Linked DNA regions of Homo sapiens: region 1 is linked to region 2. The links come from fine-mapping of genetic effects on gene expression. A gene starts in region 2. The other region holds a variant in brackets. All regions are shown on one strand. Distances are from middle to middle.

Region 1 (11,570 bases), 160 kb before region 2:
ACATCAACAGCTTATCCACCTAGATTTGAGATTTTAATCTGCTTTCGACTGCCTGATTATCCACTGCCACAGGCACCAGCTCTATTTGACTCAACAAGCATTTCAAACTTCTCCGTATGCCAGGAATTTTGCTAGGTATTGAGTATAAAAACACAAATAAAACAAGGTGTATTTTTATGTGCTTGTAACATTGGAATGCTTGAAAAATGGAAGTTACATTACAGGTACATGTTTACAAAGTAATGTAAAAGAAGACTTTGTAACAAGGTGCAGGATAGCTGCAGAGGGGTTATTAGGAAAAACCCCTGAGAAATATGGCACATCCTTTCCAGCCCATAGTGTCTGAACAGAGGAACCAGGTCACCAACTTGAGCTCATCACCATTCTTTATGATCCAGGCAACTCTCTCCTGTGCCCTGCTCTGAACATAACATAACAACATTGTCCCTGCCCTAAAGGCTAACAATTCAGGCAGGTGAGACAGCTTGTTCTGACACACTCCTAAATAAGCTTCAAATGTACAAGAGAAAAGCCAGATCAAATCTAAGGAAACAGTGTCAGAAACACAGTAAATCTATGATGACTAACTGACCTAACTTATGACCTATAAAAATCATTTTTCTTCCAAGACAACTAATGTAGTCATAGCCACCACTGTGCCAAACATACAGCTTGATAAATCAATTTAGCCTAAACCAGTACATGGTCCAAACATAATATGGCTTTAAATAACTTTGAAAAATATTTCTAGCGTCTCGAGAGAATTTGCATATTTTTAGATGAGATTTGCATTGCATCTTAAAAATACTTCATTAATTCAACAAATAACTACTGAGTTCTTGGTACATGTACAACACTGTGGAAGGTATTAGCAGGCATAAATAAAAAAGCTCTGCCCCTGAGGCATTTACTACGAAAAACAAAATTTACAGAGTTAGAATCTAATATTTATTACTTGCTCCTGATTGCATGTATTTAGCCTAATTACATAATTAGATGCAATCATGCTGAAAACAAAAGAGAGACTGAATTTTATTTTAAGAAAGCTCTCTTGAGACACAAGATGAGAAAAAAATCAGTAAGTAAGCCAAATGCCAGGAACCAAAAATTCAATCTAAACTATCAATACCAAAAAAGACCACAAAAGGCCAACCGTAAAAGCTTGTGTCTGAGGGTAAAATGAAGAGGTCATCATAGACTATATAGAAAGAAACTGTAGTGTGTGAAGTACTGTGAAACTTTATGTATGGAAAAAAACCTGAAAGATCATCTAATACAAGTCCATGATTTTATGAATTTAAATAATTAATATACTGGACACTTTGTTAATTAGTTTCTAAGGAGACTCTGATCCCTGTCACACAACTAAGCATTTGCTTTCTCCACCATATATGCCAAAAAATTCACATTTTAAAAGCCTTAACATATTACACCTTCTCTTTACAGTGTCTGAACTCCCTTAATTCTAAATACAGAGAACATAACAAAAGACATACTCAAATTACCAATGTGCTGGCCAGTGAGATGCCACATCATTGCCATAGTGGGAAGGGTCATGGTGCAAAGCTCAGCCCTCTGGCTGATTCAGTGCAACCCTTCCCTCCCATCCAGTTTCCTACACCCTATTCTAGAAGGTAGAAATAGTATAACCCTTGGCATGTCTCACACACTGAAGTCATTTTCTCAGGCACTTGAACTGGGCCCTGTAACAGTGCCAACCATCCCTAGCAAATCTGGGAGTAGGGCCTGGATGCTACAACTCAATGCTCTCTGCTTCCTGCTTCTGCAACATCTTCAAAGCCCTCCAGCCCCGCACCTGTTCTGCTGTCTCTGTGTTAGTGAGCTTTTCCATAAGGCAGAATCCTTTCTGTTTCTTTACTTTTAGCTGCCTGGGAAACGTCCTTCTCCAATTACCATGAGTTGTTGGAACAGACAGCATCCTGCTGCTGCCTTGAGACACTGGAATGGTTCTTTTGTTACAGACAGCACTGATTCTTAAAATGAAGATTTCTGCCTTCTTTAGCCTCTCCTCATATTTCAGCCTCCTCTCCCTGCCTCACCCAGCCCCCGAATAATACATCCCATCAGCCTAAATCCTTGTCCTTGGAAAAATCAGGCTATTCCTCTCACTATTTGCATCCGCCTCCTCACTCAGCCTGTTTAACCTCAGTCTCGTGTTTCTCTTCAATTTTTATCAAATAGTTATTCACACTTGGCATTACAGAGGATAGGTAAAAAGCAAAATAAATAAAAATATTCTCCACACTCTTACATGGTTATTAACACTTTTAGTGAAGTTTGACCACATCCAAAACCCTCATTCCCACCCACCAAAAGGCACAATAATATCATAGGTGTTTTATATATTAGTAGGAACATTTTAATATTATAATTTCATAACACTCCCAAAGTGTTGCAAAATAACAAGGGAGAACCACTGTTTTAGAACTTTGGTTAAAGGCAGATAATGGCATGTATTACTACTAATGTTTATTACATACATAAATTATACTATGTAAGAAATTTGAACCAGTGAATTCCAAGTCTGACTTCTAGTTGCCTATTCTCCAATGTTGACCTTATGATGCTTGATAAACTAGATACATTTTCCAGCCTGAGACTAGATTACAAGAAAAGCATCAATCCAAAATATTATCGTACTGGGGCTATTACATCACGTGGTCCCTGATCCAGAGGCCCAATTCAAACTATGCATTGAGAAAAAGATTCTCTGGCTCTGAGAGCCTGGAATTATCCTGTGGAGGTCATCTCTTCCATCCTGCTCTCCTCTGCCAACTCTAAATGGGAAAACCAAACCTCCCCTCAAAGACTGGCAATGCAAATGCCAAAGGTACAGACTCTGTGCCCACACGACTTGGGTTGTAGTCTCAACTCTGCCCCTTCCTAACTGTGGTACATCAGGCCACTTAGGAGGCCAGCTGTAGGACTCTCCATTTCTTCATGTTCTCATCCTCAAAACAGGAATAATAATAGTACCCACCTAAATTGTTGTAAAAAATATATACATTGTTATATATAAATCATTAAAGTATTTAGTAAATTGTAAATGTTCAGTTAATTTCTTGGAAACATAAATATTGTGGTAGGAAGTGATTTTGGGAAATATTCTCACATGTTAGTGGTTTCCTCACCTCACAAACATTCAGAACTTGGTAGTGACTTCACCTCCAGTAGTTCCGAACTGCTACAAAAATACTAAGAGTATGGATTATTGTTGAGGAAGTTTTTTACAAGTGAGACTGTATCATAGACAACAATGTACACATGTATGAACCTACATGATCATTTCATTTCTACAGGCTAAGATAATAGCAGACAGAATATTAGCTAAAATTGTAAAGGAGTTGGGAGGCTATGATAGTAACCAAAAATGTATCATACATAGTTCTATGAAGCACTAGTCAAGGCTAGAGAAGCAGAGCAGAGAAGGCTGGACACCACAGGACCCACTCTGGCTGGAGAGTCTGACAGCTGGGATCCGTAATCTAAACTTATGACTATTTATTTCCATGTCATAAATTTACCTTTTAACATGAATAAAAGCTGTAAGCAAGCCATGCCAAAATGCAACAAGGGTAAAGTTCACTTTCTACCTTGGTATTTCATGAGAAGTACCTCCACCGTCCACTCAAAAAGTCAGTGGAGAGCAGGTTAACTCAAAAATCCCATCTTAGCCTCCATTGTTTTCATGTCTAGGTCCACAGATGAAAAGTGAGAACATTAAAACTGGTGGTTCAACTTTGCTAGCCTGGTTGGTAAAAGGGTAAGGATAGTCAGAGAGTTACTATTAAAGGAAAGTTAGCAAGCCTCTAAAATTCAAATCCAATACAAACTTTAAAACAATTTTTAGGAGGAGCCAAGATGGCCGAATAGGAACAGCTCCGGTATACAGCTCCCAGCGTGAGCAAGGCAGAAGACGGGTGATTTCTGCATTTCCATCTGAGGTACCGGGTTCATCTCACTAGGGAGTGCCAGACAGTGGGAGCAGGTCAGTGGGTGTGCGCATCGTGCACCAGCCAAAGCAGGGCGAGGCATTGCCTCGATCGGGAAGCGCAAGGGGTCAGGGAGTTCCCTTTCCTAGTCAAAGAAAGGGGTGACAGACAGCACCTGGAAGATCCGGTCACTCCCACCCGAATACTGCGCTTTTCTGACGGGCTTAAAAAACGGCGCATCAGGAGATCCTGTCCCGCACCTGGCTCGGAGGGTCCTACGCCCACGGAGTCTCCCTGATTGCTAGCACAGCAGTCTGAGATCAAACTGCAAGGCGGCAGCGAGGCTGGGGGAGGGGCGCCCGCCATTGCCCAGGCTTGCTTAGGTAAACAAAGCAGCCAGGAAGCTCCAACTGGGTGGAGCCCACCACAGCTCAAGGAGGCCTGCCTGCCTCTGTAGGCTCCACCTCTGGGGGCAGGGCACAGACAAACAAAAAGACAGCAGTAACCTCTGCAGACTTAAGGGTCCCTGTCTGACAGCTTTGAAGAGAGCAGTGGTTCTCCCACCATGCAGCTGGAGATCTGAGAACGGGCAGACTGCCTCCTCAAGTGGGTCCCTGACCCCTGACCCCGAGCAGCCTAACTGGGAGGCACCCCCTAGCAGGGGCAGACTGACACCTCACATGGCCGGGTACTCCAACAGACCTGCAGCTGAGGGTCCTGTCTGTTAGAAGGAAAACTAACAACCAGAAAGGACATCCCCACCAAAAACCCATCTGTACATCACCAGCATCAAAGACCAAAAGTAGATAAAACCACAAAGATGGGGAAAAAACAGAGCAGAAAAACTGGAACTCTAAAAAGCAGAGCGCCTCTCCTCCTCCAAAGGAACGCAGTTCCTCACCAGCAACGGAACAAAGCTGGACAGAGAATGACTTTGACGAGCTGAGAGAAGAAGGCTTCAGACAAATTACTCCAAGCTACGGGAGGACACTCAAACCAAAGGCAAAGAAGTTGAAAACTTTGAAAAAAATTTAGAAGAATGTATAACTAGAATAACCAATACAGAGAAGTGCTTAAAGGAGCTGATGGAGCTGAAAGCCAAGGCTCGAGAACTACGTGAAGAATGCAGAAGCCTCAGGAGCCGATGCGATCAACTGGAAGAAAGGGTATCAGCGATGGAAGATGAAATGAATGAAATGAAGCGAGAAGGGAAGTTTAGAGAAAAAAGAATAAAAAGAAACAAGTAAAGCCTCCAAGAAATATGGGACTATGTGAAAAGACCAAATCTACGTCTGATTAGTGTACCTGAAAGTGACGGGGAGAATGGAACCAAGTTGGAAAACACTCTGCAGGATATTATCCAGGAGAACTTCCCCATTCTAGCAAGGCAGGACAACATTCAGATTCAGGAAATACAGAGAACGCCACAAAGATACTCCTCGAGAAGAGCAACTCCAAGACACATAATTGTCAGATTCACCAAAATTGAAATGAAGGAAAAAACGTTAAGGGCAGCCAGAGAGAAAGGTCGGGTTACCCTCAAAGGGAAGCCTGTCAGACTAACAGCGGATGTCTGGGCAGAAACTCTACAAGCCAGAAGAGAGTGCGGGCCAATATTCAACATTCTTAAAGAAAAGAATTTTCAACCCAGAATTTCATATCCAGCCAAACTAAGCTTCAGAAGTGAAGGAGAAATAAAATACTTTACAGACAAGCAAATGCTGAGAGATTTTGTCACCACCAGGCCTGCCCTAAAAGAGCTCCCGAAGGAAGCGCTAAACATGGAAAGGAACAACCGGTACCAGCCGCTGCAAAATCATGCCAAAATGTAAAGACCATCGAGACTAGGAAGAAACTGTATCAACTAACGAGCAAAATAACCAGCTAACATCATAATGACAGGATCAAATTCACACATAACAATACTAACTTTAAATGTAAATGGACTAAATGCTCCAATTAAAAGACACAGACTGGCAAATTGGATAAAGAGTCAAGACCCATCAGTGTGCTGTATTCAGGAAACCCATCTCACGTGCAGAGACATACATAAGCTCAAAATAAAGGGATGGAGGAAGATCTACCAAGCAAATGGAAAACCAAAAAAGGCAGGGGTTGCAATCCTAGTCTCTGATAAAACAGACTTTAAACCAACAAAGATCAAAAGAGACAAAGAAGGCCATTACATAATGGTAAAGCGATCAATTCAACAAGAAGAACTAACTATCCTAAATATATATGCACCCAATACAGGAGCACCCAGATTCATAAAACAAGTCCTGAGTGACCTACAAAGAGACTTAGACTCCCACACATTAATAATGGGAGACTTTAACACCCCACTGTCAACATTAGACAGATCAACGAGACAGAAAGTTAACAAGGATACCCAGGAATTGAACTCAGCTCTGCACCAAGCAGACCTAATAGACATCTACAGAACTCTCCACCCCAAATCAACAGAATATACATATTTTTCAGCACCACACCACACCTATTCCAAAATTGACCACATATCTGGAAGTAAAGCTCTCCTCAGCAAACGTAAAATAACAGAAATTATAACAAACTATCTCTCAGACCACAGTGCAATCAAACTAGAACTCAGGATTAAGAATCTCACTCAAAACTACTCAACTACATGGAAACTGAACAACCTGCTTCTGAATGACTACTGGGTACATAATGAAATGAAGGCAGAAATAAAGATGTTCTTTGAAACCAACAAGAACAAAGACACAACATACCAGAATCTCTGGGACGCATTCAAAGCAGTATGTAGAAGGAAATTTATAGCACTAAATGCCCACAAGACAAAGCAGGAAAGATCCAAAATTGACACCCTAACATCACAATTAAAAGAACTAGAAAAGCAAGAGCAAACACATT[C/T]AAAAGCTAGCAGAAGGCAAGAAATAACTAAAATCAGAGCAGAACTGAAGGAAATAGAGACACAAAAAACCCTTCAAAAAAATTAATGAATCCAGGAGCCAGGAGCTGCTTCTTTGAAAGGATCAACAAAATTGATAGACCGCTAGCAAGACTAATAAAGAAAAAAAGAGAGAAGAATCAAATAGATGCAATAAAAAATGATAAAGGGGATATCACCACCGATCCCACCGAAATACAAACTACCATCAGAAAATACTACAAACACCTCTATGCAAATAAACTAGAAAATCTAGAAGAAATGGATAAATTCTTCAACACATACACTCTCCCAAGACTAAACCAGGAAGAAGTTGAATCTCTGAATAGACCAATAACAGGAGCTGAAATTGTGGCAATAATCAATAGCTTACCAACCAAAAAGAGTCCAGGACCAAATGGATTCACAGCCGAATTCTACCAGAGGTACAAGGAGGAACTGGTACCATTCCTTCTGAAACTATTCCAATCAATAGAAAAAGAGGGAATCCTCCCTAACTCATTTTATGAGGCCAGCATCATCCTGATACCAAAGCCGGGCAGAGACACAACCAAAAGAGAGAATTTTAGACCAATATCCTTGATGAACATTGATGCAAAAATCCTCAATAAAATACTGGCAAACAGAATCCAGCAGCATATCAAAAAGCTTATCCACCATGATCAAGTGGGCTTCATCCCTGGGATGCAAGGCTGGTTCAATATACGCAAATCAATAAATGTAATCCAGCATATAAACAGAACCAAAGACAAAAACCACACGATTATTTCAATAGATGCAGAAAAGGCCTTTGACAAAATTCAACAACCCTTCATGCTAAAAACTCTCAATAAATTAGGTATTGATGGGACGTATTTCAAAATAATAAGAGCTATCTATGACAAACCCACAGCCAATATCATACTGAATGGACAAAAACTGGAAGCATTCCCTTTGAAAACTGGCACAAGACAGGGATGCCCTCTCTCACCACTCCTATTCAACATAGTGTTGGAAGTTCTGGCCAGGGCAATTAGGCAGGAGAATGAAATAAAGGGTATTCAATTAGGAAAAGAGGAAGTCAAATTGTCCCTGTTTGCAGATGACATGATTGTAAATCTATAAAACCCCATTGTCTCAGCCCAAAATCTCCTTAAGTTGATAAGCAACTTCATCAAAGTCTCAGTATACAAAATCAATGTACAAAAATCACAAGCATTCTTATACACCAACAACAGACAAACAGAGAGCCAAATCATGAGTGAACTCCCATTCACAATTGCTTCAAAGAGAATAAAATACCTAGGAATCCAACTTACAAGGGATGTGAAGGACCTCTTCAAGGAGAACTACAAACCACTGCTCAAGGAAATAAAAGAGGATACAAACAAATGGAAGAACATTCCATGCTCACGGGTAGAAAGAATCAATATCGTGAAAATGGCCATACTGCCCAAGGTAATTTATAGATTCAATGCCATCCCCATCAAGCTACCAATGACTTTCTTCACAGAATTGGAAAAAACTACTTTAAAGTTCATATGGAACCAAAAAAGAGCCCGCATCGCCAAGTCAATCCTAAACCAAAAGAACAAAGATGGAGGCATCACGCTACCTGACTTCAAACTATACTACAAGGCTACAGTGACCAAAACAGCATGGTACTGGTACCAAAACAGAGATATAGATCAATGGAACAGAAGAGAGCCCTCAGAAATAACGCCGCATATCTACAATTATCTGATCTTTGACAAACCTGAGAAAAACAAGCAATGGGGAAAGGATTCCCTATTTAATAAATAGTGCTGGGAAAACTGGCTAGCCATATGTAGAAAGCTGAAACTGGATCCCTTCCTTACACCTTATACAAAAATCAATTCAAGATGGATTAAAGACTTAAACATTAGACCTAAAACCATAAAAACCCTAGAAGAAAACCTAGGCATTACCATTCAGGACATAGGCATGGGCAAAGACTGCATGTCTAAAACACGAAAAGCAATGGCAACAAAAGCCAAAATTGACAAATGGGATCTAATTAAACTAAAGAGCTTCTGCACAGCAAAGGAAACTACCATCAGAGTGAACAGGCAACCTACAAAATGGGAGAAAATTTTTGCAACCTACTCATCTGACAAAGGGCTAATATCCAGAATCTACAATGAACTCAAACAAATTTACAAGAAAAAAACAACCCCATCAAAAAGTGGGCAAAGGACATGAACAGACACTTCTCAAAAGAAGACATTTATGTAGCCAAAAAACATGAAAAAATGCTCACCATCACTGGCCATCAGAGAAATGCAAATCAAAACCACAATGAGATACCATCTCACACCAGTTAGAATGGCAATCATTAAAAAGTCAGGAAACAACAGGTGCTGGAGAGGATGTGGAGAAATAGGAACACTTTTACACTGTTGGTGGGACTGTAAACTAGTTCAACCATTGTGGAAGTCAGTGTGGCGATTCCTCAGGGATCTAGAACTAGAAATACCATTTGACCCAGCCATCCCATTACTGGGGATATACCCAAAGGACTATAAATCACGCTGCTATAAAGACACATGTACATGTATGTTTATTGCGGCACTATTCACAATAGCAAAGACTTGGAACAAACCCAAATGTCCAACAATGATAGACTGGATTAAGAAAATGTGGCACATATACACCATGGAATACTATGCAGCCATAAAAAATGATGAGTTCATGTCCTTTGTAGGGACATGGATGAAATTGGAAAACATCATTCTCAGTAAACTATTGCAAGAACAAAAAACCAAACACAGCATATTCTCACTCATAAGTGGGAACTGAACAATGAGAACACATGGACACAGGAAGGGGAACATCACACTCTGGGGACTGTTGTGGCTTGAGGTGAGGGGGGAGGGATAGCATTGGGAGATATACCTAATGCTAGATGACGAGTTAGTGGGTGCAGTGCACCAGTATGGCGCATGTATACATATGTAACTAACCTGCACATTGTGCACATGTACCCTAAAACTTAAAGTATAATAATAAATAAATAAATAAATAAATAAATAACAATTTTTAAAGATTGCAAGTAAATAACTACTGTTACAAATAGTAAGTTCGTTATTTAAATACTGCTTCTAACTATGAAGACCACAAATTCTATCTTTTTATAATCCCAGAATCAACAAAACACCTTTTACTTACTAGGCCATTGAGAAACATTTGCTATTAGTGGTTACAATGATATATATATCAATAATTTATGGTACACCTTACACATATATTGGTGTTTAAATTTATCAAGTGTAATCTTCACAACAATCCCAAAAAATATAGGTAGCATTATTCTCGCTTTTATAAGAAATTTTCACTAATGAGAAGTTGAATTTCCTAACCAAGATGACGTGAATTAAAAGTGAAGTCCAAGTTTCAAACCACATCTATACTGAAGATGCAATGTGTTCAAAAAATAACATGCTGGGACAGGCTGCAGAAACATGTCTCTGAGCACTAAAGTTCCTACTAGTGAATAAAATACTCTTTTTCTAAATTCCTCTTCAGAACACTTACTTAGTTAAATAATATATAAATCAAACACAGAAAACCATATGCCAATTCACCAGTGATAAAAATTATTTATTCCAGCAATTCTAAATATATTCCTTAGAGCAGTGGTCCCCAACCTTTTTGGCACCAGGAACCATTTTCGTGGAAGACAATTTTTCCATGGACAGTGGGGATGTGGGGCAAAGCTGGAGGGATGATTTCAGGATAAAACTGTTCCACCTCAGATCATCAGGCATTAGAGTTTCATAAGGAGTGTGCAACCTAGATCCCTTGCACGTGCAGTTCACAACAGGGTAGCCCTCCTATGAGAATTGAACGCTGCTGATCTGACAGGAGGCAGAGCTCAGGCAGTAATGCTCCCTTGCTCATCCACTGCTCACCTCCTGCTATACGGCCCAGTTCCTAGCAGGTCACAGACCAGTACTGGTCCCAGGGGTTGGGGACCCCTGCCTTAGTGTTCATAGGCAGTGCTCACACATGGATAACAGAAAACATGTTTGGACAGCCCATCTCCTTCCTCTCCCTGACTCCTGTGTCATTACTTCCATTAATATTTTCAGTAAGCAATCAAGATAACAAAATCCAAAATAGAAGCTAGTTTTTATCATTTATTGTAACAGTTACAACATATACACAGTCACAGGCTTATCTTCAAATGTAAAGATTAATGTCATTAAATTCCTTGAATTGTTTTTCAGTTATAACAGATTTCAAGTAATTTTCACTACTGTCCTATGATTATAAAAATCCTAATTCCCCAGTAAGTGCTTAATATATATTTTCATTTTAGTTCTAAAAGTAATCATCTGTAATACATTTTTATAGAAGCATAGAACATATACTGATGAGGTTTTTGTAAGAGAAATAAGCAATCCTAAGTACGCCTTTCAGTACTTCCTATTGAATAATAGAATTTTATCTATGAAAAGCACATTAGGAACATTTTACCCAAGTTCCTTATTTTATAGATTTAAAAAAAAAAACAGGCTTACTATGTTTAAGAATATAACAGTAAAGTTGTAGTCTTTTGAATTAAAAATGACAATAGAATTAGATTTTATGAAAAAGAAATCTTTAGAAACTCTCATTGTATTATTACTAGTTCTTGCTGAATTTTTTTCCACATTAAAACCAAGGTTGCCTCATTTCATTCTCATGAA
Region 2 (11,570 bases):
ACTATTCCAAAATTCATATGGAACCAAAAAAAGAGTCTGAATAGTGAAAGCAATCCTAAGCAAAAAGAACAGAGCCAGAGGCATCACATTACCTGATTTCAAACTGTACTATAAGGCTATAGTAACCAAAACAACATAGTAGTGATATAAAAACAGACAGCATAGACCAATGAACAGAATAGAGAACCCAGAAACAAAGCCACACTCCTACAGCCTTCTAATCCTTGACAAAGTTGACAAAAATAAGCAATGGAGAAACGGCTCCTTATTCAATAAATGGTGCTGGGGTAGCTAGCTAGCCATATGCAAAAGAATTAAACTGGACCCCTACCTTTCACCATATAAAAAGATTAACTCAAGATGGATGAAAGATTTCAATGTAAGACCTCAAACTACAAGAATCCTAGAAGAAAACCTAGGAAACACCATTCTGGACATCAGCCTTGGGAAATAATTTATGCCTAAATTATCAAAAGCAATTGCAACAAAAACAAAATTTGACGAGTGGGACCTAGTTAAACTAAAGACCTTCTGCCCAGCAAAAGAAACTATCAACAGAGTAAATAGACAACCTACAAAATGGGAGAAAATATTTGCAAACTACACCACAAACAAAGGTCTAATATCCAGAATCTAAAAGAGCTTAAACCACTGAACAAGCGAAAAACAAATAACCCCATTAAACAATGGGCAAGACATGAATAGACACTTTCCTAAATAAGACACATAAGCAGCCAACAAACATATGAAAAAAATATTCCACATCACTAACCGTCAGAGAAATTCAAATCTGAACCACGAGATACCATCTGACACCAGTCAGAATGGCTGTTATTTAAAAAGTCAAAAAATAACAGATGTTGGCAAGGCTGCAGAGAAAAGGGAACACTTATACACTCTGGTGGAAATGTAAATTAGTTCAGCCACTGTGGAAAGCAGTTTGGAGATTTCCCAAAGAACTTAGAAGTACTATTCGATCCAGCAACCCCGCTGCTGGATATATATCCAAAAGAAAACAAATCATCCTACCAAAAAGACATACATGCTCGCATGTTCACCACAATACTATTCATAATAGCAAAGACATGGAATCAACCTAGATGACCATCATATGAACTGGATAAAGAAAATGTGGTACATATATACCATGGTATACTATACAGCCATTAAAAATAAGAAAAATCATGTCCTTTGCAGCAACATGGATGCAGCTGAAGGCCATTATCCTAAGTGAATTAATGCAGGAACAGAAAACCAAATACCGATGTTCTCACGTGTGAGAGCTGAACACTGGGTACTCATGGATATAAACATGGCAACAACAGACACTGGGGACTACTGGTGGGGAGGGGGAGGGAAGAGAGCAAGGTATGGGGGAAAAAAAGAAAAATGAATTAAATGAAATAAAATTACCTAATGAATCTAACATCAAAATTGTTAAAAATGTTTCTGGGAGTAGGCCTGACAATGGGAGGCAAGAGATGAAAATCTGTTGCTTTTCATCAACAGTACTTTTGTACTACATTTTTTTGTTACCATGGTCATGTATTACTCTTAAGAAAAAAAATGTAATGAATTTCTACTAGAAATTTCTTGCTAAAGGGTTAGATTTTAGAGATATGAGAATCTTCCTACATAAACTGAATACTATGGAAGAAATTCCATAACCTTCAAGTGAATGAAAAATTTGTTTTATTTTCCTTGTGGTATGAAAGTATGACTCCCCTTTTAATATTCAATATAAATGAAGAACTGATTCACATTCCCAGATAATTCAGTTACGAGTTGATTCATCTATAGATGTCAAAATTTACTTAATACGTTGTAGCTATATTATAAAAATTCCTAATTTGAAATAATTTATAAAACTTATTTAAGTGATCTGTTGCTATTCATAAAATAAGGAATTAGCATGAATACAATTCACTAAAGAATGTATCTGCACAGTGCAACAAATGTAGAAAACAAACACTAATATATAGTCACATTAGACAATAATTACCTAAACAGGTCACCAATTCTTTCCAACTATGGCAGACATCACAAATCAAATGATACTCCTTCCAGTAGAATGAGGACAACCTCAAAATCTTTCTTAACATAGTACTTCTCAGCCTGCAAAACTAATTAAAATTGGCACATCAAGTGAAACCCCTTTGGCCTAGAGCAAGACAACATTCCAATTAATGCTACTATATGAAAATATTCACTTCATTTCTCCTTTTCAGCACCTAATGGGCTAAAAAGATTTTCCAAAGGATTAAATATTAAATTCTGCAATGAGAATATTGCAGTAATTAGCCATGAATAATATATTTCTTCATGACAAAGTCTTAAGATTACTCAGCCAGTATGACCTGGAAAAGCTTGATGAAGATTCCAAGAAACTGTGGTACTCAGAGATGAAGAGAGTAACCTTAGCTCCTGCTTTTAGTTTTCCATTCCGGTCCCTACACATCAAAGGATACCTGTGGATGTCCTCAAAACTCCAGGAAGAGGAGGAAGAGGGCCAGAGGGAAGGAGAAAAGAAAATCCTCTCAGTGCTTAAGCTAGTTAGGTTAAACAACCAAAGGAACCCAATTAAAATGACTACTTTGGAGACTGTGCCTCTTAAGTAACAGTCCCGTGAGCCCCGTTGGGGGATCCTGCCTATAATCTAAGCTGCACAACTCCAACGAGGATCATTAGTCAATTACTGATTTTAACTAGAAGTCAAGGAATTTTATTGGTTGAACCAGCTGTGTTAAACATAACACTTAGTTTTTAATATGTACTTAAGCAATAAAGGGTACCTCTGAAAACACCCATCCTCTTAAATAAAAGGGAAGAAATCAGTAATGCAATAAAACAGGCATTCAAGTTAAACCTTTTGAATTCATTTTTTAACTAAATGGGATAGATAGGGAAAAAAATAGCTCTGGAAGTGGACTTAAAATGCGGGGATTAGCTAGTAGGCCTAGCTACAGAGACAAAATATGGCCTTGGCCCACAGTTTTGAGAACTTTGGTAAAGAATTTGAAATCTGGTGCCCTGAAGACTAAATCTGGTTTTGTTATGCCCACAGAATATTTTTAATGTAAATAAATTGGCAATCTGAAGGTTTAACCTTTTTAAAAATGAGGATTTTAGTTACTTTTGAAAAACTAGGAAATCTGGAAACACAGAGCCCACTTTCCCACTTGCGAAAAGCATCCTCCTGTAAGACAAAATCTTTCCATCTCCCTATATTGCACAGTACCCAATTCTTCTCTCACTACACGTATCTGATTCCTTTGATATATGAACTATCAATCCCTGCTTTATGGAGAGAGGTCTTGCACAATCAACTCATGAGTGGCTTGGTTAGAAAAAGTTGTGATATCAGCGACATGCTACACCTAGACTGACAAACCAATGACGCGGTCCTCTGTCATGTAGCTCACCAACGCAGACTTCCTCCTCTAAAGATGAATTCCCTTCAATCCCTCATTTCTTTTTACTGTAATATGATTCCACTAGGAAACACTTCAATCCACCAGACAAGGGTGACGGGAATGAGGTACCCAGATCTACTGTCGCAGGAGGTTCCTGTGCCTCTAGGTAAATTTATGGGTGCATGCTAAGAGATAATTGGAAGGGTATTATGTCACCTCTACCTGTCAACAATGTCTGAAACCCAGACATCACTCAGAAAACTGTATTTTTTCAAGAAATATTAGAATTTAGGCAATTTTCATGTTTACTGGTAGCCTTGAACATCGTTTCATGATGCAGCTAAAATAAAATCTGTCATGGTTACTTTTTTCTATTATAAAATTGCAAGTGATTCAGTATAATAAAAGTTATATTTAACCCAAAGAAAGTTGCCAAACTTAAGCAAAAATGGAAAGAAAGCTATAGTAAGATATATTTAATACCCCAATTACCTAACTAGGAAAAACACTAAACTTAGCATGTTAGAAAAGGAGAAATATAAAAATATTAAGTGCTTAATTTATCTCTAAAAGAATTAACCATGAGTATAACAAGAAAAACAGAACAGACCATTGACTATCAACAGGCAGGCATATCAATCCACCAGAGCAGATACCTACCTTAATATTATAGTCCTATCCACCATTCGTTGCCTGGGTTTCAAATCCAAATAAGCATGGTGGTTGCTATAGTGACAATATGCCACTTTTGGAACCTGGAGCTTAGTACTACTAGGTACTTATGAGCTTCATAACGTCAGTACTTCCTCCCACACTCTGAATCATAGCTCAGATTTTATAACTTCACAAAATGTAATTCCATTCTGTCCTATATGAGTCAATTTTATTTTAGCAGTATAGAATATATGTCAAAAGAATCTAACTCACTTAACATGCTAAATATACATACTCAATATACATTTAATTAATAGTAAATATATTGGCCTGATAAGATAAATTTTGTGCAACCATTGGAATTCACTGATTTATTATTGAAACTGGGCAAGATTCACAGCTAATTCTTTAGCTTACAGTTGTTAAAATAGGATTCCTACCACACTTCATTTAAGAAGAAAGTTTGAAATTCTAAAATAATGAATTTCATTTATGGCAGACTGACATATTTTCATTTTACTCAGGAACCATTCCTAATAATTAAAGACTAATTATTAATGATCTCCAAGATGGTAGCTTGTTGCTAGCAAAATGCTAAGAAAAAAATATCAATCTCAAATTACAGTGCATTTCTAGAATATTAAAAAAAAAAAAGTCAGAGAACTGGAAACCCTCATACATGGCTGGTGGGAATGAAAAATGATGCAGCCACTTTGGAAAAAGTTTCCGTTTCTCAAAAAGTTATACATAGAACTACCCTACGACCCATCACTTTCATTCCTAGGTATCTACCCAAGACAAATTAAAACATACGTCCACATAAAGACTTGCACATGAATGTTCACAGCATTATTCATAACTCGAAACGACCTAAATGTCTGTAAACTGGTAAATGGGTAGTGTTTCATCCTGCCGAACCCACGACTGGGGTCGCCCTCTAAGAGTTCATTAAAATTAATAAGGTATAATTACCTAAAACTCTTGTAAACAGGGGCTCGAATAAGTAACCTATCACAATTGATAAACCACACCATGTTGTTGGCAACCTGATATGTGCAAGGCATTAAACGGAGAGCTTTGCCCTCAAAGGGTTAAGAACATCTAGAATGGGGGTCTCCTCTTTCGTCTTGGGAGCCCCCTCCGTCTGTCTCTGTAGTGGGGAGCTTCTTCCTTCAGCCTTCTTCCTTCTTTCTTGCCTATTAAATTCTCCGCTCCTTAAAACCAAAAAAAAAAAAAAAAGTCCAAAAAGTCTTGGTGTTTACCACAAAAGAACGATGCTATTCCAACATCACAGCCTCCCTAAAGCAACTCTCAATTATTACATAAAGAGGCAGCCTCCCTAAAGCAACCCTCGATTATTACATAAAGTCACTTAATCTTTTCTGACTTCACCACTCTTTGCAACCAGAGTTTACTTTGCAGTAGGCTGTGGTGAAGTTAGGGACATGGTTTGGAAAATCTAAGTTAGGGATACCAGGCAAAAAAAGAAGAAGAAGAAAGAAAAAAAATCAAAGCTCTGTCATTACTGTGAACTTTTCAACGAGAGCCTTAAATCTCAGCACAGGGAAAAGAGACCCTTCCTCAAGCCCTGGAGAAGAGGCTGGTCACAACCTGCGGATCTCAGATCCCTTTGCCAATTTTTTTCTCTCCCTCTGAATCCAAAGGGTGACGCTGTCCTCACTGCTTCCCCACACACCAGCGAGTGCGCGGAAGTCCACCTGCGTGGTTGGACCGAGGGGGCAGGTCCATTCGCGGCCTCCGCCACGCCCCACACCGCCCCTCCCGGCACAGCCCGCCGGGGTTAGCCCGCCCGTCCGCCAGCTCCCTCTCAGCGGCGCAATCTCAGGAATTCTTAACCCTACTCTGGGCAGGTGGGATGGCTGAGAAAGACCCTGCATGCCGCCACTTTGGCTCAGGGTCCTCAGCCCAAACTGAGAAACGTTTTACAAAGAAGCGTGACGACCTTTCGCACTAAACCAGAGTACCGCCACCTCCATCGACCGAGCGCCAAAATTAACCGACTTACAGATGTGACTGGGCGCAGCGGCCACCGTAAGGCGTAAGGGGTGCCAAGTGCCGGTTCCAGTCCCGCCCAGCCCCGCCCCGCCCCGCCCCGCCCAGCCCCGCCCCGCCCCGCGGCCTGCGTGCGTCAGAGATCACGTGCCGCGCCTCCCGTCCCTACAGGCAATCGGGCGCTCCCCTCTTCCGGAAGTCGCGCCGGTGCGCGCCGGACTCCTCCCACCAGCGGCGACGTCAAACTCAGCTCCTACCACTTCTCTGTCTCTGCCGACCGGCGCAGGGAGGGCTGCCTTTTCCTTACAGTACGCCTTGAGGCTTCCGGGCCGCTGAAGTTTACGAGCGAGGGCAGTGCAGTTACTCAGTGTGCCGGCCTCGGACGCACGTGAGTAGAGTTTGAGAAGACAGAGGCTGGCTCCCGGCAGGCCACGCCCGCAGAGGCCTTTCCCCCTCTCCACAACTTGTGTTCTACTTGGTTCCGCCGAGACCCACGACGGTTCCGCCCCCTTCTTCCTAGTCATTGATGTTGTTGTTCTTGTCAGTGCCGCAGCCCCGACCGCCGGGAGCTCGAACCCGAGCCGGGGCCGCCCGGGTGGCGCGGTGGCGGCGGCTGCGGCTGCAGCAGCTGCGACGGCTGCGGGGGCTGCTCCGGGTACTGCGGGGGCGGCCGGGAGCCGGCAGCCGGCGGCGGGGCCGGATGGCTCTGTGCGGGCAGGCGGCGGGCGCTGCGTCGCTGCCCAGCGAGCTGATCGTGCACATCTTCTCTTTTCTGCCGGCGCCCGACCGGCTGCGGGCCTCGGCCTCCTGCTCGCACTGGCGTGAGTGCCTCTTCTATCCGGCCCTGTGGCCCCAGCTCCGCATCTGCCTCCGCGTCTCGCCCGCGGAGCAGCCTCGGCTGGAATTCCTCATGCGCAAGTGCGGCTGGTTCGTGCGAGAGCTGCGTGTTGAATTCGCCGCCGAGAACTATCTGAGCGGCGGTGGCCCAGGGGACGGAGGTGGCGCGGACACCGGGACTGGAGGGGAGGAAGTCGAGGCCCTGCAGCTCTCAGCTCGTTGGCTGGAAGTGCTGCGCACCTACTTGGAGCTGGTGCTTTGCGTGCTGGTCAGCATCCGGAACAACAGGTAGGCTTGCCCTGAGCCCCGCCCCGCCCGGTAACGGGGGGTCGCTCCGTCCCCGCACCCCGACACAGATTCTGTGCATAATACGTGCCCGGCCAACTTCAGTGTTGCCTTCCTCAGTGACGGAGAGTGTTGGTTCTAACTAGGCGGTTTCCTTGAGCGGAAAGGCATAACGGGACTCATCACGATACTTTATAAACAGTGGTGGACGGGGTGTTTAACAGACACCACTTCTGGCGCCTTCCAGGCACTCATTCATCCTCTTGGTGGCCGTGGGATGGAGCTGACAGGCGCTGTCACTTTTCATTTTATATATGGGAGCGTTAAGACTGGGAGGGTGAGGCCTGTGGGTGAGCCTTGGAAGAAACAAAACATACACATAACACGATTTTCTGACTCTGAATCTGTTAGAAATAGTTCATGGTGAGGGAAGGAGTAGGTACTCATAGGACGCTGCCTAAAAGAAATTTTGTAACAGCCATTTTCTTACCAGAAATAGTTTCGGCTAACTGAACAAGGCCCGAAGAGGAGGAGGAGTGTTTGTTAAAGGGATTGGGGAAGAAGTTGATCTTCAGGGTTGAAAGTCCCTCCCCATACACCACCACACTCAACTTCTCCCCAGTAGTTCACCTAAAAGTAACAGTCGGGCGGAGGAGGCGGGCGGGCAGCGAGGGAGTTGGCCAGGGTCTGCAGAGGGTAAGCACATAACTGTTCTGGTTTTGCATCAGGACTTCACTGTAATTCCAGAACTAACGCCTTATATTCTGACCCAGTATCCCTCCCAATCATCATTTTTCTCCATCGCCACCTCCAAAACCCTATTAATTTAGATCTTCTTTATATGGATATTCTAAAGAACCTTACAGTAAAGCTCTTATTAGAAGAAAGTTTAGACGTTCACAAAAGGAGCACCTTACATAGTAAAAATACTTCAGCAGTTTCACATTCACTGTGTTGTTTGAGCCTCTCAGTGGCACTATGAGGCAGGGTAATGATAAATAACCCTGTTTTACAGAAAGGAAACTGACCCTTTATAGGATCAAGTGATTTGCACATTGCTGTACGGCATTGTTTTTCTCCGAAAGCGTGTCCTTTTGCAGTAAATATACTGAACATTATGTTGAACAAGGTTGAGAGCAGTCCCTGGTTTAATGCTAGGAGATATATATAGATATAAGGTTATATATATATATGTATGCGCCATTAATCTGTGTCTTAATTTAGAAGTCAAGAGATAAGTTATAGCTCCAAGTTGTATCTGGGATATGGCTCCATTATTCCAGTTGCCTGTGCGTTTCCACAGCTTTTCGCAAGACATTCTATTTCCTTACTTTGGTTTTATCTGGCAGGAGAGGCCATTGAAGCTAAAAACAGATTAGGTTAGAGACTTTCTCAGAGTTGAATGTATGGCTAGAGGACCAACTGACCCAAAAGTTGCAAAGTTTCAGTCAGTGAGCACTTACTAATGAGACCAAGGTTGAGGGTGAATTCAATGAGTGAGTACCAATTAGATTTTTCTGTACTGAGATCAAATTGCACTTTTATGCAACCATGCAAACACTGTATGTGCCTTTGACCCAAGTAAGAACAAGACTTGATAAGTGTCTAGTTCCTTTTAAGTATTTTAATAACTGGTTGGTTGGATGGGTGGATAACATACAGGCAAAATGGAGATATTTCACATCTTTGCTTTGTAGCTTAATTCTCCTGTCCTTCTCTTCCTTACCCCTACAATTTTTATTAGCATCCCAATCTGCTTCTCTATAAGGCCACCGATGCCTGCCCTTCTGGGTCAGCTATCACTTCTATGCAAAAACATCACACCCGTCATCCCTAATTTTAAGGTTTGCTTGTCATCTACTATTAGCATGGTGTTGTATGTCATGCTGCTTTGGTAGCATATTCATTCTGTTTGTCTCAAAATGTAGTGTAATTGCATGTTGTTTGTACTAATGATACATCAAAGGGTTTTTGGAAATAAGTTAATCTCATCTTTACTGTTGAAAGTGTTTTGAGATACTCTGTGATATTGGAAAAGTTAATATGAATATTAAATCCATAAATAAGACTAGTTTCCTTTAAATTTTAACAAATCTGAAAATGTTTTAAACCACATTGTTTATCAGTGACTAGTAAAGCCTATTATTTCTTTCTATAATCACTTAAACTATAGACTTGGGACATTTGACATTGCTCTTTACATTTCCAAGTTAAATTTACAATGGTTTTGCTTTATGATTTCTGCCATTCTATAAGTAGAAAAGAGGGGGTGTGAATCATACCAGATCATAAGCATTCTGCTTCCAGGCTTTGTGCTGAATTCCTTTATACAGTTCATACAATTCAGACTGTTATTTTGTTTTGTTCCAGTTATTTTCATGTCCCTCAGGAAAATAATTAAAAGTATAAACTTGAATTGTGTGAACTTTTCAAGGGTGCTGATCTTCAGAGAGGACAATTGGCATTTTGTTTTGCTTGGTTCCTGGGTTATATATATACATGTATTCTCATAGTGATTATAGTTGCCATACCTGTATCTTAGGTTTTAGGAACAACTAATAAGGATAAAGAAGGTGCATAAGTGCCTCTCTGAGGGTAACACACAGTCCTTCACGTTTCAGAAATTCCTTCTCTACAGGGCACTAGGATACCTGTCTTCTTCATTAATAGTAAGAACAGAGGGGCAGTAAGTACTCATTCAACTGTATTTTAGGTCACATAGGCTGAATTTCTCTGCAGTCGTTCTATAAGAAATTGTACCTAGAAGTGCAAACAACAAATAGATATAAATGCATTTTTAGCATTTAATCCAGTTGTCAGGTTGGGTACTGCCTATTAAAATGCTGTATTTCAGACTCCTTAGGAAAAACGAGAGCTCATGGTAAGATTTATGATAATAGGTAATAGACTCAGTCACTAAAAATACCTGAAGAGTAGCCATAGGCACATTGTCTTCATCTGGTTTATGCTTCTATGGGCTGTATAAATGTTTTACATAAGCTTTTCTTGGGTGGAATGCTGTTAGGGGCAGTACTTTTTTGTTGTTGTTGAGAATTCATATCGTTGGCCAGGGGTGGTGGCTCACACCTGTAATGACAGCACTTTCTGGGAGGCCGAGACGGGTGGATCACTTGAGGTCAGGAGTTCGAGACCAGCCTGGTCAATATGGCAAAACCCCATCTCTTTTAAAATACATAGCCGGGTGTGGCAGTGCATGCCTGTAATCCCAGCTACTCAGGAGGCTGAGGCAGTAGAATCGCTTGAAGTCAGGAGGCAGAGGTTGCAGTGAATAGAGATCGTGCTACTGCACTCCATCCTGGGTGACAGAGCCAGACTCCGTCTCAAAAAAAAATTTAAAAAAAAAGAATGCATATTGTAACAGACCAGAGAAATTTTGTACAAGATTGATTTTCTTTTTAAGATTCTGGGTACAGCTCTAACTGCTTGTATGTAGATTGACCATTTCATGACTGTGTCTGCTTATATATCCTGTAAGTTAAAAAGGATCTATTAATAATACTTAGATTTGGGTCTTGTTGATTTGGCATGCACAGTGAAGGAGAATCTTACCTTTGTATTGTTTCCTACCAAGAAACAATAATAAAGACATTTAAAAATATTTTGAGACAGAGTCTTGCTCTGTGACTCAGGATGGAGCAATCATGATCATAGCTCACTGCAGCCTCAAATTCCTGGGCTCAAATGATCCTCCCACCCCAGCCTCCCTAGTAGCTAGGACTACAGGCATGCACCACCATGCCTGGCTGATATATATATTTTTTTAATTTTGTGTAAAGACAGGATCTCACTGTGTTGCCCAGGCTGGTCTCTAATACCTGGCCTCATATGATTCTCCCATTTCTGCCTCCTAAGGTGCTGGGATTACAGGTGTGATCCCCTGCACCCTGCCTAAAAATGCATTTTAAAATGGGTTAAAAATTCCCTGGACATTTCAGATTACTACCTAAGATGGTAGAAAATGCCTTGAAGGTATTATCTCCAACAGTTTTTAGCCTTATTTTTCTTGAAATATTTCTCCTGTGGTAGTATAATAAATATGTCTAACAATGTTTCATCTCTGAGAGTTTACTTTGTTATTATTTACTTTAAAAAGCCCATTTACAGAATAAATATATTAAAATATACTGGGCCTGTGACCAATCTGCCCTGTTCAAGAATTAGTTTCCTGTGACACTGCATTCCCAGCAGGCTCCTTACCTAAAAACTGAAAAAGAGGCTCCTTAGGGATAGCCTCAAAGTTACTGAGAAGGAAAGCTAAAGAAACTAACCTCCTGGAAGGCTGTTATGAGAGGTTTTAGGACTTTTTATTCCACAGCTGTATTGGCAACTGATAGATGGAATAGGGTG

Evidence for each region.
Region 1: its variant is fine-mapped to the expression of FBXO33 in whole blood (INTERVAL, PIP above 0.99).

Annotation. Positions count from the first base shown.
Region 1 is chr14:39,582,592-39,594,161 of GRCh38, reverse strand. All of the region lies in intron 2 of LOC105370461 (a long non-coding RNA gene), which reads right to left. Among named protein-coding and RNA genes, the nearest start is that of FBXO33, 160 kb to the right of the region's middle. RefSeq lists an enhancer at 4,189-4,778. The variant C/T (reference allele first, on the strand shown) is at 6,843.
Region 2 is chr14:39,427,199-39,438,768 of GRCh38, reverse strand. It overlaps FBXO33 (F-box protein 33), which reads left to right and starts at 6,336. Exons shown (of 4, transcript NM_203301.4): 1 at 6,336-7,205. The coding sequence starts at 6,607. It overlaps LOC105370461 (a long non-coding RNA gene), which reads right to left and starts at 6,330. Exons shown (of 8, transcript XR_007064121.1): 1 at 6,250-6,330. RefSeq lists silencers at 5,738-5,907, 6,648-6,777, 7,218-7,347 and an enhancer at 6,298-6,547.